Linked DNA regions of Homo sapiens. The protein of the gene in region 2 purifies or fractionates together with the protein of the main gene of each other region. This does not show direct contact. Each region holds a gene or a part of one and is shown on either strand. Other genes may lie near its edges.

The links. Proteins that work in one complex are often made in the same cells at the same time.
Region 1: the proteins of SLK (region 2) and IMMP2L purify together in Homo sapiens (co-immunoprecipitation; one large-scale study listed by IntAct). This does not show direct contact.
Region 3: the proteins of SLK (region 2) and PPP1R2 fractionate together in Homo sapiens (co-fractionation; one large-scale study listed by BioGRID). This does not show direct contact.
Region 4: the proteins of SLK (region 2) and RABGAP1 fractionate together in Homo sapiens (co-fractionation; one large-scale study listed by BioGRID). This does not show direct contact.

What each region holds. Positions count from the first base shown.
Region 1 is NC_000007.14:111,559,693-111,563,755, forward strand, and holds the start of IMMP2L (mitochondrial inner membrane protease subunit 2), read right to left. Parts: upstream 2,801-4,063; 5' UTR 2,159-2,800; intron 1-2,158. UniProt on the Homo sapiens protein: Catalyzes the removal of transit peptides required for the targeting of proteins from the mitochondrial matrix, across the inner membrane, into the inter-membrane space. Known to process the nuclear encoded protein DIABLO.
Region 2 is NC_000010.11:103,970,140-103,973,639, reverse strand, and holds part of SLK (STE20-like serine/threonine-protein kinase), read right to left. Parts: intron 1-3,500. UniProt on the Homo sapiens protein: Mediates apoptosis and actin stress fiber dissolution.
Region 3 is NC_000003.12:195,516,627-195,519,325, forward strand, and holds part of PPP1R2 (protein phosphatase inhibitor 2), read right to left. Parts: intron 2,560-2,699; coding exon 2,392-2,559; intron 317-2,391; coding exon 270-316; 3' UTR 1-269. UniProt on the Homo sapiens protein: Inhibitor of protein-phosphatase 1.
Region 4 is NC_000009.12:123,101,520-123,105,019, forward strand, and holds the end of RABGAP1 (rab GTPase-activating protein 1), read left to right. Parts: intron 1-46; coding exon 47-244; intron 245-1,571; coding exon 1,572-1,694; 3' UTR 1,695-3,347; downstream 3,348-3,500. UniProt on the Homo sapiens protein: May act as a GTPase-activating protein of RAB6A. May play a role in microtubule nucleation by centrosome. May participate in a RAB6A-mediated pathway involved in the metaphase-anaphase transition.

The DNA of each region.
Region 1 (4,063 bases), on a different chromosome or scaffold from region 2:
TGACCACATAGAAAAACAGGGAGGGAAATTTAAAAGTAAGTACTTCTATGCCAGGCACTGTTTTTTCACACATTCTTTTATATATACTCTTTGTTCTGTTTTGATGGATAAGAAATCAAGCAGCAGAGAAATTTTAATGGCCCAAAGTGACACAGCTAATAAAATAAGAGCCAGAAATCAAGCTCATGTCCAAAAGACTGTAAAAGTCATGCTACTTCTACATGAAGTTGTGGGGTGGAGTGAGGAGGGGTGGTAAATAGCCAAGAAGAAGGAGAAAAAGAAAGAAATTTACAATTTTATCAAATAACAGTGAAATATATATATATAAAACATGTATTATGTTCCACATATGTTCCATATATAATACGCAGTTAAGATGTATACATGTTTAACATATACTTAAGCTGCATATTTAGTATGTGTATATATGGAACAAAAAGTTGAAGAAACAAGTATCAAATTGTTAAGTGGTCATCTGAAAGTGGACTCATAGGAAACTCACTTATTGCCTTTTATACCCTCCCAGATTTAATTCTAAATAACTTTTTTTTGACTTTTTATTACTCTTATAACCAGAAAAAGACAAAGAACTATTCTAGCTTAGATCTTTTAAATGAGGCTAAATGCACAGAAACCCATGCAAGTTAAAAATGGTCTACTTTCGAATTTATTTTTCTAAGTACATCATCCTTTACACTCTCCATGATTCCTAATATTAGGTCCTTCTTATGGAACAACTACAAAAGTTATCCTCATCTAATTATTATACTCGTACACTGGAAAATGACTATAACATTATTCATTATAGGAAACAAATCATCAAGGTCAGCCATCCTTGTAAGTTTATTACTGAAAGTACTAGAAAGGCGGAATAATAATTCTGTTCTCCCACAACACTGTATAGACCTGCAAACCACTATGATCAGTAGTACAGGGAAAGTCTTGTAAATTAACATGTAACTATTGAGAAAATCCACAAAACTGGTGAAAGGCCTACCCCAAAACAGCCATCTCCAATACAATCTCATCATTCTCACCATCCTACTTTTATCAAAGTGCTGATAAAAGTGCGTAGCACATGGTAAGAGAGAATTAGCTATTGAATCAATGAAGGAACCCATTATCAATAAACAATCACTTCCTGTTTTCCATAAATTATGTGGTCACCTATCACTTGAGCACAAACAAATAGGCACGTTCAGGACACAGGCAGCCAGTATCAGAATAGGCAGCCTATCACAGAGGGCAATTCTACTTTTCCTGTGTAAGAATCCAAGAATGCAGTTTTACTACATTCCTGCTTGTAGCTAATCTGAATTTCAACTAATTTAAAACGGTTATTTATATGTGACATATAGGATGCATAATGAGCTCCCAACCTTGTGAGAGGAGCTGTGTTTCATTTCACCATACAGGGGAGAGGGAAGCAGTGTATTAAAGAAGTGATAGAAAAGTCCCACAGAAGAACCAATGAAATAGACCACACTGAAAATCACAGTAAGCCTCAGAGAACTTCAGTGTCCTTTTTGGCAACTTTTCAAAAGTGAATGGAATGCTTGCCAGGAGGTACCAAGAGTGAAAGCCCAGAGAAAAAGGCCCAGCCTGGTCATCTCTCTCCCCTCAAAACATCTTCTTCTGTAAGCTTGAGAGATCCCAAAGAACTTCAACACTTGTAATCTTGTTACTAACTTTATGCTTTGGGGTCCTAAAGGATTTTTTCAGGAGTACCCTTTTAAAATGTAAACATCCCTAGGGGGGTTACTGTTCATTATCAAACAGGACCTGGATTCTTTAGTGCTATGGTCTCAGGGATTAGTCAAAGCTGGCTAATAAGATAGGGGCCGGAGACAGACAACTAGAGAGGACCAATGTTCCAAGGTAAAAACAGGTAAAGGGGAAGTGCAGTTTTCTGTCGGGTCAAGGGGCTAAAAGGGATCCACATGCCCAAGCTGTTAAACTCTATAGACTGTGTGAGGCTGAAAACAGTCCGGGGCCTGGAGCCTGTGACTTTGAAGGTGGGTCCTCCAGTTCCCGATGAAAAGGTAGAATCTGGGCCCAAGTTCCCCACGAGCAGTTCTGGACATCTAGCCCTTCTCTCTCTCGCTCGCTCTCAGGATAAAGTCCTAGGTCCTTCCACCCCTGACCATTCCTTACTTACCCTTTCTCCCGCTCTTCCTCGGTGAGAAGGGGTAAGTGGTTATTTTGTGCCCTCGCCCAATTTGGCCAAAACCCTAAAAGTAAAAAACGACAGACAGACACGTGCTTTAAAATCATGTTGTTCAAGCCTGACGCTCTCCCACCACCTGCCCAACACTTCCAGGCAGAAGGCAGCGCGCCCCCACAGCGCTCCCTCACGGCCAGAGCCGGGGGCCGGACTAGGCCCCTTTGTGAGGACTGGGAGAGGGCGCGTTGTTGGGGCGCCGGCTCGGCGGGGAGGAGCGGGCCAGCTCCGGGCCAGGTGTGCCGCCTGTGGCGCCGGTTTCTCAACCTAGTTAGCCAGTGGCACCAAGAAGAGGACTAGGCTGGGGTGGCCGCCGCACGCGCCTCAGATAAACACGCGCACGCACACATGCTCGCGATCACGCAGGACTCGCGGCCGCGCACCCCTCCGCCTCCCGGCAACGCCCGCCCCGCCGGGGCCGGGGCCGACTCCCAGGGAAGGGTCCCCAGCCCAAGAGACCACCAAGGGTCGGCGGCTACGCGCCCGCCGACCCCTGCCAGCCTCACAGCCCCCCACCCGCCGCCGGACGCCGGGCGCCCGCCCTCCGCACCCGCTGCGCAGCTCAGCCCGGGGGAAGTCCCCGCGCAGACCCCGCCCTCCGCCGGCGGCAAGCTCCGCCCCGCTGCCCCGTCGCGCGCTGGCCGCCCGAAGCTCCGCCCCCGGCGGAAAACTGGTCTCTGGACCGCCCGCCCAGGTCGGGCTCAAAATGCGGCGTGGATCTGAAAGGATCAAACACAACACTAATTCAGCAAGCTATTATTGAGCACTTGCCCTAAGCTCAGCAACGTACTAATGGGGGAGACTACAATAAAGAGCCGAAAAGTCTATGAAACTGTGTCTTCAGCTCTTCCTCTTGTTTTAGAAGCCAGGAAACAGAGAACCCTCACAGTTACTTAAGTACAGGGCAGTAGTGGCAAAGCACCTCACTAGCGATCTCTGGGCAACTCTTCATTTCATTTTTTCCTACTCATGAGCACTCAGGAAAACTATTCAGTTTTGCTGCCTCCAGGTAAAACAAAGTGAGTAACACAGGACAGGCGGTTTACTTGAGAGAAACGGGAATTTCATACTGAAGCTTTTGCCCTCAAATGGTACAAACTCTTTTTTTTTTTTTCCTGAGACGGAGTCTCGCTCTGTCGCCAGAGCGACACTGCAATCTCCGCCTCCCGGGTTCACGCCATTCTCCTGCCTCAGCCTCCCTAGTAGCCGGGACTACAGGCCCCCGCCACCATGCCCGGCTAATCTTCTTGTATTTTTAGTAGAGATGGGATTTCACCGTGTTAGCAAAGATGGTCTCCATCTCCTGACCTCGTGATCCGCTCACCTAGGCCTCCCAAAGTGCTAGGATTACAGGCGTGAGCCACTGCGCCCGGCCGAATGGTACAAACTCTTAACTGGGTTATTACAACCTACAAAGAAACCTTCTTATCCATGTTATTAATTATCCTAATTCAATGTGGTTTAAAATGTTGATGAAAGTACCCAAATCATGGTGCTCCAACAAGCTGGATGCCAACCAGGTACTCGTAAGTACTTGCAATTACAGGTGCGATATTTTCATTCCATATCATCCCAAGATGCCCTTCCTTCACGTGAAGCAGCCAGAAAGATCAACTACCAGATTCCGCATGATTGAGGAATTGATAAATAGAAAGGGAAGACCGAAACCGGCCAAATTTTCCCTTCGAAGTGAAACTTGAGAAACTTGCGTGCATTTTACCTGAGTTCCTTTCTCAGCAGATAAACTGTCAGACCTCCCAGATAGTGTCAAGGAAATGCAACTTTCCAGAACACTACATCTGGACAATGAGGTGCATCTGCTGCCTGTTCACAAACTCCTCT
Region 2 (3,500 bases):
AAAAAAGACCTAAACAGAGATAAAACATGCACAGGTGGGAAGACTCAATATCAAAGAGAGGTTAATTTTTCCAAAACTGATTTATAAATTCAATGAAATCTCTCCAAAAAAACACAGATTTTTTGTGGCACTCAACCAGGCTAACTGGAAAATGTACATAGAAGCCCTAAGGGCCAACAATACTACTAAACTATGTTGAAGAAGCAGCAGAAATTTATTTTAATTCTTTCCTAATTAAGACAGTGGGATACTGGTATAGGAATAGACAAATAGATCAATGAAGAGAACGGAGAATGCAGAAACAGACACATGCTACATAACAGGGCACTGCAGAGCAGTGGGGAATTATTTTTCTTCCCAGCAAATAGTTCTGGGACAATTGTGTATCCATATGGGGAAAAAAATGAAACTGGACCCCTACCTCATACCATTTACAAACATCTATTCTAGGTAGATTATAGATCTAATTGTTAAAGAAAAGCAAAATCATAAAGCTTTTAGAAGATAATATAGAAGATTATCTTCATGATCACACATTAGGAAGAAATGTCTTAAACATAACACAAAAAGCATCAACTGTAAAGGAAAAAACTAACAAATTGGACCATGTTAAAGAATTCATAAAAAGACACTACAGTGAGAATGAAAAGACAGGTCTCAGAATGAGACTATATTAGCAATAACTATCACCAGCAAATGGTTAAAATTCAAAACACATATATTGTACACACACACAATCAACATACAAACAAAGACTTCAAGAGAAAAATGGATAAGAGACTTGAACACAAAAGAAGAAATTCAAATTACCAAAAACATATTAAAAGAATTACTTTTAGTAATCTGTGAAAGGTGAATTAAATGCACAATGAGAAATGTAACACATTATCAGCCTGTCAAAACTTTAAAATTCTGACAATATTAAATGTTAGCAAAGATGCAGAGCAAGGAAATTTTTTTTTTTTTTTGAGACGGAGTCTTGCTCTTTCGCCCAGGCTGGAGTGCAGTGGTGCGATCCCGGCTCACTGCAAGCTCCTCCTCCCGGGTTCACGCCATTCTCCTGCCTCAGCCTCCCGAGTAGCTGGGACTACAGGCTCCTGCCACCACGCCCGGCTAATTTTTTGTATTTTTAGTAGAGACGGGGTTTCACCGTGTTAGCCAGGATGGTCTCGATCTCCTGACTTCGTGATCCGCCCGCCTCGGCCTCCCAAAGTGCTGGGAATACAGGCATGAGCCACCGCGCCTGGCAGGGCAAGGAAATTCTTCAACTGCTGGTGGGAATGTAAACTTGTATAATTAGTTTGGCATCATCTGGTAAAATTAAAGATACACTACCCTATAACCTAGCAATTCCATTCCTGGATTAACTCTTAGTGAAACTCATGTATATGTGCAACTACCGTTTTGTGTAAGAGCCAAAAACTGGAAGCAACCAATATATCCATTAATTGTACAATAGTAAATAATTGGTGATATCATCATATAATAGAATACAATGCTACAACGAAAAAGAACTACAGCTCTATGTGATAAAGATGAACCTCACAAACACAATACTGACTTTGAAAGAGGCAAGACACAAAAGAATATGTTCAATATGATTCCATTCATATAAAGTTCAAGTGCATACAAAACTAAATTTATAACATTTAGGGATATAATCCTAGATAGTAAATGATTAAGAAAAGCAAATAAATGAATAACTTAAAGATAGGATAGTGGTTTCCTTTAGGGAGAGAGAAGATATTAGATACAGAAAGGAGGCAAGAGGGATTCTCGGATGTTAGCAGAATTCCTTGACACTGACAGTTGTTAATAATAATTCACTTTATTATCTGCTAAATGTATATGTTTCCATACTTTTTAATACAAAGATTATATATTTTACTATTTTTTAAAAGGCACACAGCCATCAGTTGTCATATAAAAACTACTTTCATCCAGCACACAGCCAAGAGTTTAGTTTCAACTGGTTTAATAGATAAAATAGCTTTCTAGAAATGCAATTCAATTCATAATCTTATGTCATTCTTTTTTTTCTGTTAAAAACAAGAGAAATCCAGCAGGGGGTGAGGGGCAGTGGCTCATGCCTCTAATCCCAACACTTTGGGAGGCCAAGGCAGGCGGATCACCTGAGGTCAGGAAAGACCACCCTGGCAAACATGGTGAAACCCCGTCTCTACTAAAAATACAAAAAATTAGCCCGGCACGGTGGTGCGTGCCTGTAATCCCAACTACTCCGGAGGCTGAGGCAGGAGAATTGCTTGAACCTGGGAGGCGGAGGTTGCAGTGAGCCGAGATTGCGCCACAGCACTGCAGCCTGGGCGACAGAGAGGGACTCCATCTCAAAACAAAACAAAACACAAACAAAACAACAACAACAAAAAAAGAGAAACCCAAAGATAAAATATTGTGAAGGATATTACATATCTTCATTTATATGTCAAATAATACTATTTTTAAAAGAGAAAATAAATTTAAAGTAGTGAAGCTTTTTCAGGCAAGGAAGTAACTGTTAAATGTGTACAGTGCTGGACTGAGTGGAAGGAATACAACAAGTACACGATGGAAGAATGACTCAGACTAAATACACAACATGATTACCTATAGGTTACACATCCCAAATCTGAAAATCTAATCTGAAATGCTCCAAAATCTGAAACTTTCTGAGTGCTAACATGACATGATGTTCAAAGGAAATGATCACTAGAGCATTTTCAATTTCAGATGTTCAATAACTAAGTATAATGCAAATATTCCAAAATCCAAAAAATTCCAAAATCCAAAACACTTCTGGTCCCAAGCATTTGGGAAATGGGATACTCAACCTCATCTCTATTTACAATATAATCTTTGTAACAGTTACTAATTTCTGTAAGCAAATGATAGTTAGAATCAAGTTTATAAACAGTTTTCTACTACATACTACTACGTACTATGTTAAGGTTCCATAGCTTTTTCTTCCAAATATAAGGAAGTTTATAAATCCTCAATTTCTATGGAATCTTGAAAAACAAAAACTTTTAGAAAAAAGAGGCCATAAGAAGACAGATAAGTTTTAATTTCAAATTTTATTTTTTAAAAAACTCATACCCTACTCCTTAGAAGCAGAGAGTAGTGAAATGAAAAAAGAAAAAATAGTGCCAGCCCGTGCTCTTCAAATATCATACTAAAATACAGTCATCAAGATCACAGAAATTCTCCTTGACACAATTTTATAGTGCTCAAATAACTACATGAAATAAGACTCTTGTTCTTCAGAAATTTTTCAATTAATGTCTCAGTACAGGAAGATAGATCACATTTTGCAGAAAGTGTCATGAAAGAATAACACAGGGCTTTAGTATCTCCACACAGTCTGCCCATGCCATTAGAAACCAACAAAATGGTTTATTATCTTCTTGGTTCCTTTCCCTATCTCATCCCAAAGTTTGCATCTATGAGCTCTAAATGTAATAACAGTAATTTCTACCATTTACTGAGCCCTTTCCATGTGCCTT
Region 3 (2,699 bases), on a different chromosome or scaffold from region 2:
ATTAACCAGTGTTTTTACAAAAGTAATGCAGTTTTGGACTGATGATATTACACTGTATTTGTGGTAAAGTACTAGGCACAAGAATATATATATCGATTAGGCATTTTCAGTCTAATCAGTCTCTAAGTTTATCATTTAATTCTTGGCAATATATAATAACTGGTATGCATTTTGGTACTTAAGTCATGAATTGTGAAGAACAAGAAGCAACGTACTATAGTCACAGGGTTTACATCTAACAAACAATTGCAGTGTTGAACAAATCTCGTCTATGAACTTCGTAATTTGTTTTGCTGTTGGTCACTTGGAGTAGATCCTGCAAAGATAAAAGAAAAAGTCAACATAATTTGTTATATGTTGTCAACCCTGGCTAAAGTTCCCTTCTATTAGCATGCATGACAAGCAAATATAAAAATTTTAAAAACAAATAAGGTATATTTCATGTAGGCTGATTTAGACTGAAATTGAAGAATCTATACACTCCCCTAAATAGTCTAAAGAACAGAAGTGTCTACTTGCTGATAAAACAAACAGGTTTCAGATTGAACATTTCTGTAAGTCACAGGTGGAAAGGTAAGAGTTTACGACAACTCCAATATCCAGAGCTATAAAAAGATACATATTTATTACCTGAAAGCTATAAAATATCACCTAAGAGTCCAAACATGTCATTTTCTCCAATGAATTGTGTGAATGGGGGAGGAAAGGGGGAAGGGAGGAGACTGGCACTGTCCCAAAACTAATGGGTTCTATAGAACTTAGAGATCTGAAAAGCTGGTAAAATGTTAAGGGCCCAAAAAGGGTAGGGGGTAAATAAGGTACTTATTTCCCTAAGTCTTATCCTATTCTTGTGGGTTTTATAATGCTAAGCAGGATATACTCCTTTGCAAGGTGTACTTCATCTCCAGTGAAGAAAAATCAGGCACTGACCTAATACAAAATTTTAATCCTCCATTAAACTTAAACAAAAAATATATTTATGTACTAAATATGTGAAATGTAATATCTTATAAGCAGAGACGGACAAAATGCCATAGTTATTTTTCAAAAGAAATGGCGTTAAAACAAACAAACAAAAAACGCTGCCTCTATAACAAAAAATAAAATAAAAATAAAAATGGATAATAAAAACATGCCACAGCTACTATGTAAGATGAAGTTTGCTCAAGTTAAATATAAGTTAAACAGACTATGGGATATATAATGGAAATGAAAGGCTATATGAAATAGACTAAAAGGTTGAAGCATATTACGGAATAACAAAAAGTACTGTAATCCTGACACTATGAGACAGCAACTCATCAGGCTGTATCATAGAATTATTCATATTTAATACTATGCTTACCAAAATGGTAATACAATAATTATTTAATTTCCTAAGACTTAACCATTCTGGGCACCACAAATAACATCAGTTACGCCTCCACTGAAAAGTATGAAGTTTGTAAGTACAAGGAGTAGGTGGTGGGCACAAAAAATCTCCATTAGTGATGCAGAAGATTCACTTCATTAAATACCAGAGTAACAGTTCATAAAAAATAAATAAAACCTATTTCCTATGACAGATCAGGAGTTGCTAGGCTGCAGGGGCTGGGTGTCTAAGACTTAAAAAAAAAATAAAAACAAAAACAGTTAAATAACTTGTCAATCCAACAGTCAAAAGAATCCGTATTGGAAAGATATGACATACTTTGTATCTAACGGGATGTAAAACCAAATCTTCCATACTAAAAACATGTTTCAGGCTGGGCGCGGTGGCTCATGCCTGTAATCCCAGCACTTTGGGAGGCCGAGGCGGGCGGATCACAAGGTCAGGAGATTGGGACCATCCTGGCTAACATGGTGAAACCCCATCTCTACTAAAAATACAAAAAATCAGCCAGGCGTGGTGGCAGGCGCCTGTAATCCCAGCTACTCGGGAGGCTGAGGCAGGAGAATGGCGGGAACCCAGGAGGCGGAGCTTGCAGTGAGCCGAGATCACGCCACTGCACTCCAGCCTGGGTGACAGAGCGAGACTCTGTCTCAAAAAAAAAAAAAAAGTTTCATTTAAAAATTTTAAATTTTAGATCGTTATGACAAATACAACATGACCTAAAATATTCAAAACAAAATATAGCTTAATATGAAGACAAACATCCTTGCCTAAAGGCAAGTAAACCATAAGAAAGCCATATAATAAAACATATGGTCTAAAATCAAATCAACTCTAGGTATAAAAACTTTATTATTCTGAAATTGGCCATGCGGGTTAAAACTTTAGAAACATTTGGTATAATAAAGCGAATCTCAGCAAAATTTTCTGTTTTTTCACAAGTTTAAAGCAAAATAAAGTACATTATCTTAGGCATAGACCATTACAAAAGTCTCAGTGACATTTTCCAAACATCTAACCTTGATTTGATTCTTCCGTATTCATGCTTTCTCCATCTGCAGTCTCTAACATTTCTTCATCTTCATCATCATCATGTAGGTCTTTTGAAATTAATTGTCTGGCTAGTTTGATATTGAGTCCTTCATTGTAGTGAAGCTTCCTTTTCATTTCAAATTGTCGCTTTTTTTCTATAAGATGCAAAATGTAAACTTAGGAAGTTTGAGCTCAAGGATTGGCCCATGCCTGTTTTATAAATAAAATTTTATTGAAACAGTGATGCTCATTTGTTTTTGTCATGCTTAAGGCTGCTTTTGTGTTCAATGGCAGA
Region 4 (3,500 bases), on a different chromosome or scaffold from region 2:
GCCAGTTCCTCTTCTTTGCCTCTTCACATCTAACATTCAATTTCAGCAAAAAGTGGATGACTGTGAGCGGTGCCGGGAATTTTTCAACAAAGAAGGGCGTGTAAAAGGCATAAGCTCAACCAAGGAGGTTTTAGATGAGGACACGGATGAAGAGAAAGAGACGCTCAAGAACCAGCTGAGAGAAATGGAGCTAGAACTGGCACAGACCAAACTCCAGCTGGTGGAGGCCGAGTGTAAGATACAGGTAACAGCAGCAGAGCTCAGACATGTGCCTGCGGGCTGGGTTTCCTGATGTGCACTAGAGACCCCAGAAATTATCTTTATGGTTTGGGGTTTTTCCACACCTTTTAAACTTTGGTCACAGTTGTCATGAGAAGAAATATAGGACTTGTTACTGGCCAGTGGATGTCTCATCAGTATTTGGCCTGTCTTGAGGATTTCCGCTGTCATATTGAGAATAATACACAAAAGCTTGGAATCTTTTGATGGGATGAGAAGACAGTGCTTTAGAAACACAGCTCTACCACTGAACTGTTTGACCTTGGGTTAGTAACCTCCCTACATCTCAGGTTCCTTATCTACAAATGGAAATGATGAGAGTCCCTATCTGATAGGTTGGTTTGAGGACTAAGTAAGATAGTGTGCACAAATGGCTTGGCAGAATGTCGGGGGCTTTATAAATGCAAGCTTTTGTTCTTCCAGTTCCCACCACTTAACTAGCTTTGTGACTGTTAATATACTACCTATCTGAGCCTCCTTTCCTGATAAAGAAGTTAGGGCTTGTTTTGGTCATCTTAATACACATTGCTAGGTCCACCAGCACCACTAAACCCTAAGCACTGTTTATGGAGGGAACAAGTTCAGGATAAAAGCTTTAGGGCTGATTCTCCCTCATGGCACACATTCACTGGGCATCTGCTCTTTGGCAGGCCCTGTTATAGGTCTGGGACTGCAAAGCTAAGGCCTGGTAGTGTGACTACCCGGAATAATCAGGAAAGGCATCACCAAGGCAGCAGTAGCTGTGCTGTGATCAAAGAATGCACAGGGCTTGTAGCTACAGGAGAGAGAGAACAGTGGCAATTCCAGGCAGAGGGAGTGGCATGTTCAGCAGCACAAGGAGGAGAGTGGCTGCCCAGGAAGGACCCTCAGGAGTTCTTTCCTTGCAGTAGGGGATGGAGGTGGTGCTAAGGCTGGAAGAGAGTGTGTGGATCCAGATTGCGAAGCATTTCAAATGCCATGCTAGGGAGTTTAAAGATTTTTGCCAAAATGAAATGATGTCACCAGAAATAGAGCATTACCTGTCTGCCTGGTGTGCATTAGGTGGACAGAAGAGGGAGACATAGCAAGTAGAAGACTGTTTTAATAAATAGACCAGGCAAGAAATTAGATCTTAACTAAAAGCTCCCAAATCTTTAGGCATTTCAGGCATTTCTATGCCAGTTGGAGACTGGGGGAATTCCCCGAGGCCTCTCCAGAGTAAATAGACTGCATTCTTGTCTTGGTTCTCCTCTGGGGAGCCAGTGTCATTGACACCAAGCCCAGCATCCTCATGCACACTGTTCCTCTTGCAGGACTTGGAACACCATTTAGGGCTTGCCCTCAATGAGGTGCAGGCAGCCAAGAAGACGTGGTTTAACCGAACACTGAGCTCCATAAAGACAGCAACCGGGGTTCAAGGGAAAGAGACTTGCTGAGAGCAGCTGCCGCCTCCCGACACCTTCAGAAAACACGACACCTTTTGTTGCCTTCTTTGGCCAGATGTGTGATTCTGTGACTTGTCCCAGGACCAGAATGTACCTAAGTCAGATCCATAGACGCATGTTGGTAGGTCACTGGACCAGAGCTTGTGAAGCAGGCAACCTCTGGGGTAAGACTACTGATACTAACAGGCCTGCTAGCTCAGCCGACGCTCTGGACACTCTAGAAATCACTCCTCAGTGTGACCTCCCAGGCCTCTTCCCCGTGTACGTCAACACCTCACCCAGCCTAAAGGCTGAGTTTACATGATCAGAGTTAGGGGATCCTTCAGTCTGTTGATTTTTTTTCTAAACCTTTTTTTTTTAATATACATATATATATATATATATATATATATATATATATATATATATATATATAGTGGGGGTGGGGCAAGGGATCAGAAATTCAAATAATTCTTTTCTGCTTCAATGCCAGCAGAAGGTCCCCCAGGTAGACATGGAGAAGCACTTTGTTTTAAATAGGAGGGTTTCATAGTTGCATCTGAAGCCACCTGGTTCTGTTAAACTGTATGGTGCAGGTTTTGGGTTTGGCATTATTCATGTTTCTGATCAATTCTATGCAACTCTCATAGTTCCTGTTACTTTTTAGCATTAGCTGCCAAATGACTTCAAAAGGCTGGGGTGGGTGACTTGACTGTGAGACTGGATTATAACATGGACAAATCTTATTTTGCTTAATGTGTTTGTGTGTGTGTGTGTGTGTGTGTGTGTGTGTGTATGTATATATATATATAAATATCTTTCCCAATATGCCCCGTTGACAGTGTTTAAATTCCAGACTAGGACTGCTGATCTGCACAATTTAATTATGTGGTTATTCGAGCACTTAATTTCACTCAAGGTTCATTGGGCTCTGCTCTCCTCCCTGCCATTACGGGAGCTGTGGACAGAGCTCCCTCACTTCAAGATTCCTAGTGTTTTTGCACAACAGGTTGTCCAAGTGAGAAAGACTGAGTTGCGTGTCTGTAAATGTCTGCGCAGGGTGCACATGCTGCGAGGTCTCCATCCTCCGGGCCTGTCCCTCCCAGATGGGCTGGGCCTTTGGGCCCTCCTCAGAGTATGCCTGGGTACAAACCTCACTGTTCAGATGGGCTGTAAGTTCTCACTTCAAAGCTATGGAATGGATTTTAGCACCTTTAAAAAAAAAAAAAACTTTGACTTTTAATTTATATAGTGATATGCTGACAGGCTGACACGCAGATGGTTTTGTCCTCTTTTCTGCGTTCAGTGTTGAGGCGGCTGCTTACAAGAGGCACTGGTTTTGTATATAAAGACACTCGGGTTGTTTTGTAGCTCTTTTTCTTATTGGCTGTACTAACGCTTGCTGAGGTTATCTGTAATAAGGGAGGTAACAAGTGGCAACCCCCTCCCCACCAACCATCCCCTTTGCTGCTTTCTGTGTCTTTCTTGTTCAGTTACCAAAATAGCTGTAAGCCTATCTAATGCTAGGTGTGTGGACATTGTGCTAAGGTAGTTTCAGTGTGTCAACTTTATGAATTGAAATATAAACCAGTAAAATTGTATTACTGTTTCTTTTGTTGGTTTTATTTTAACAGCATATTGATTAAATATTTTGGTACAAACAAACAGCATTGCTTTGTAAAAACCAGTTTTGTCATCACCTACTCCTGTCGCCTCCCCTTCTTCCCTCATCCCCTGCGCACAGAAGCAGTCAGAGAAGACCACTGTGTGTGCTGTAAGAGAGGCATGTGTGAGCGCGAGGCAGCCCCTCACCCACCT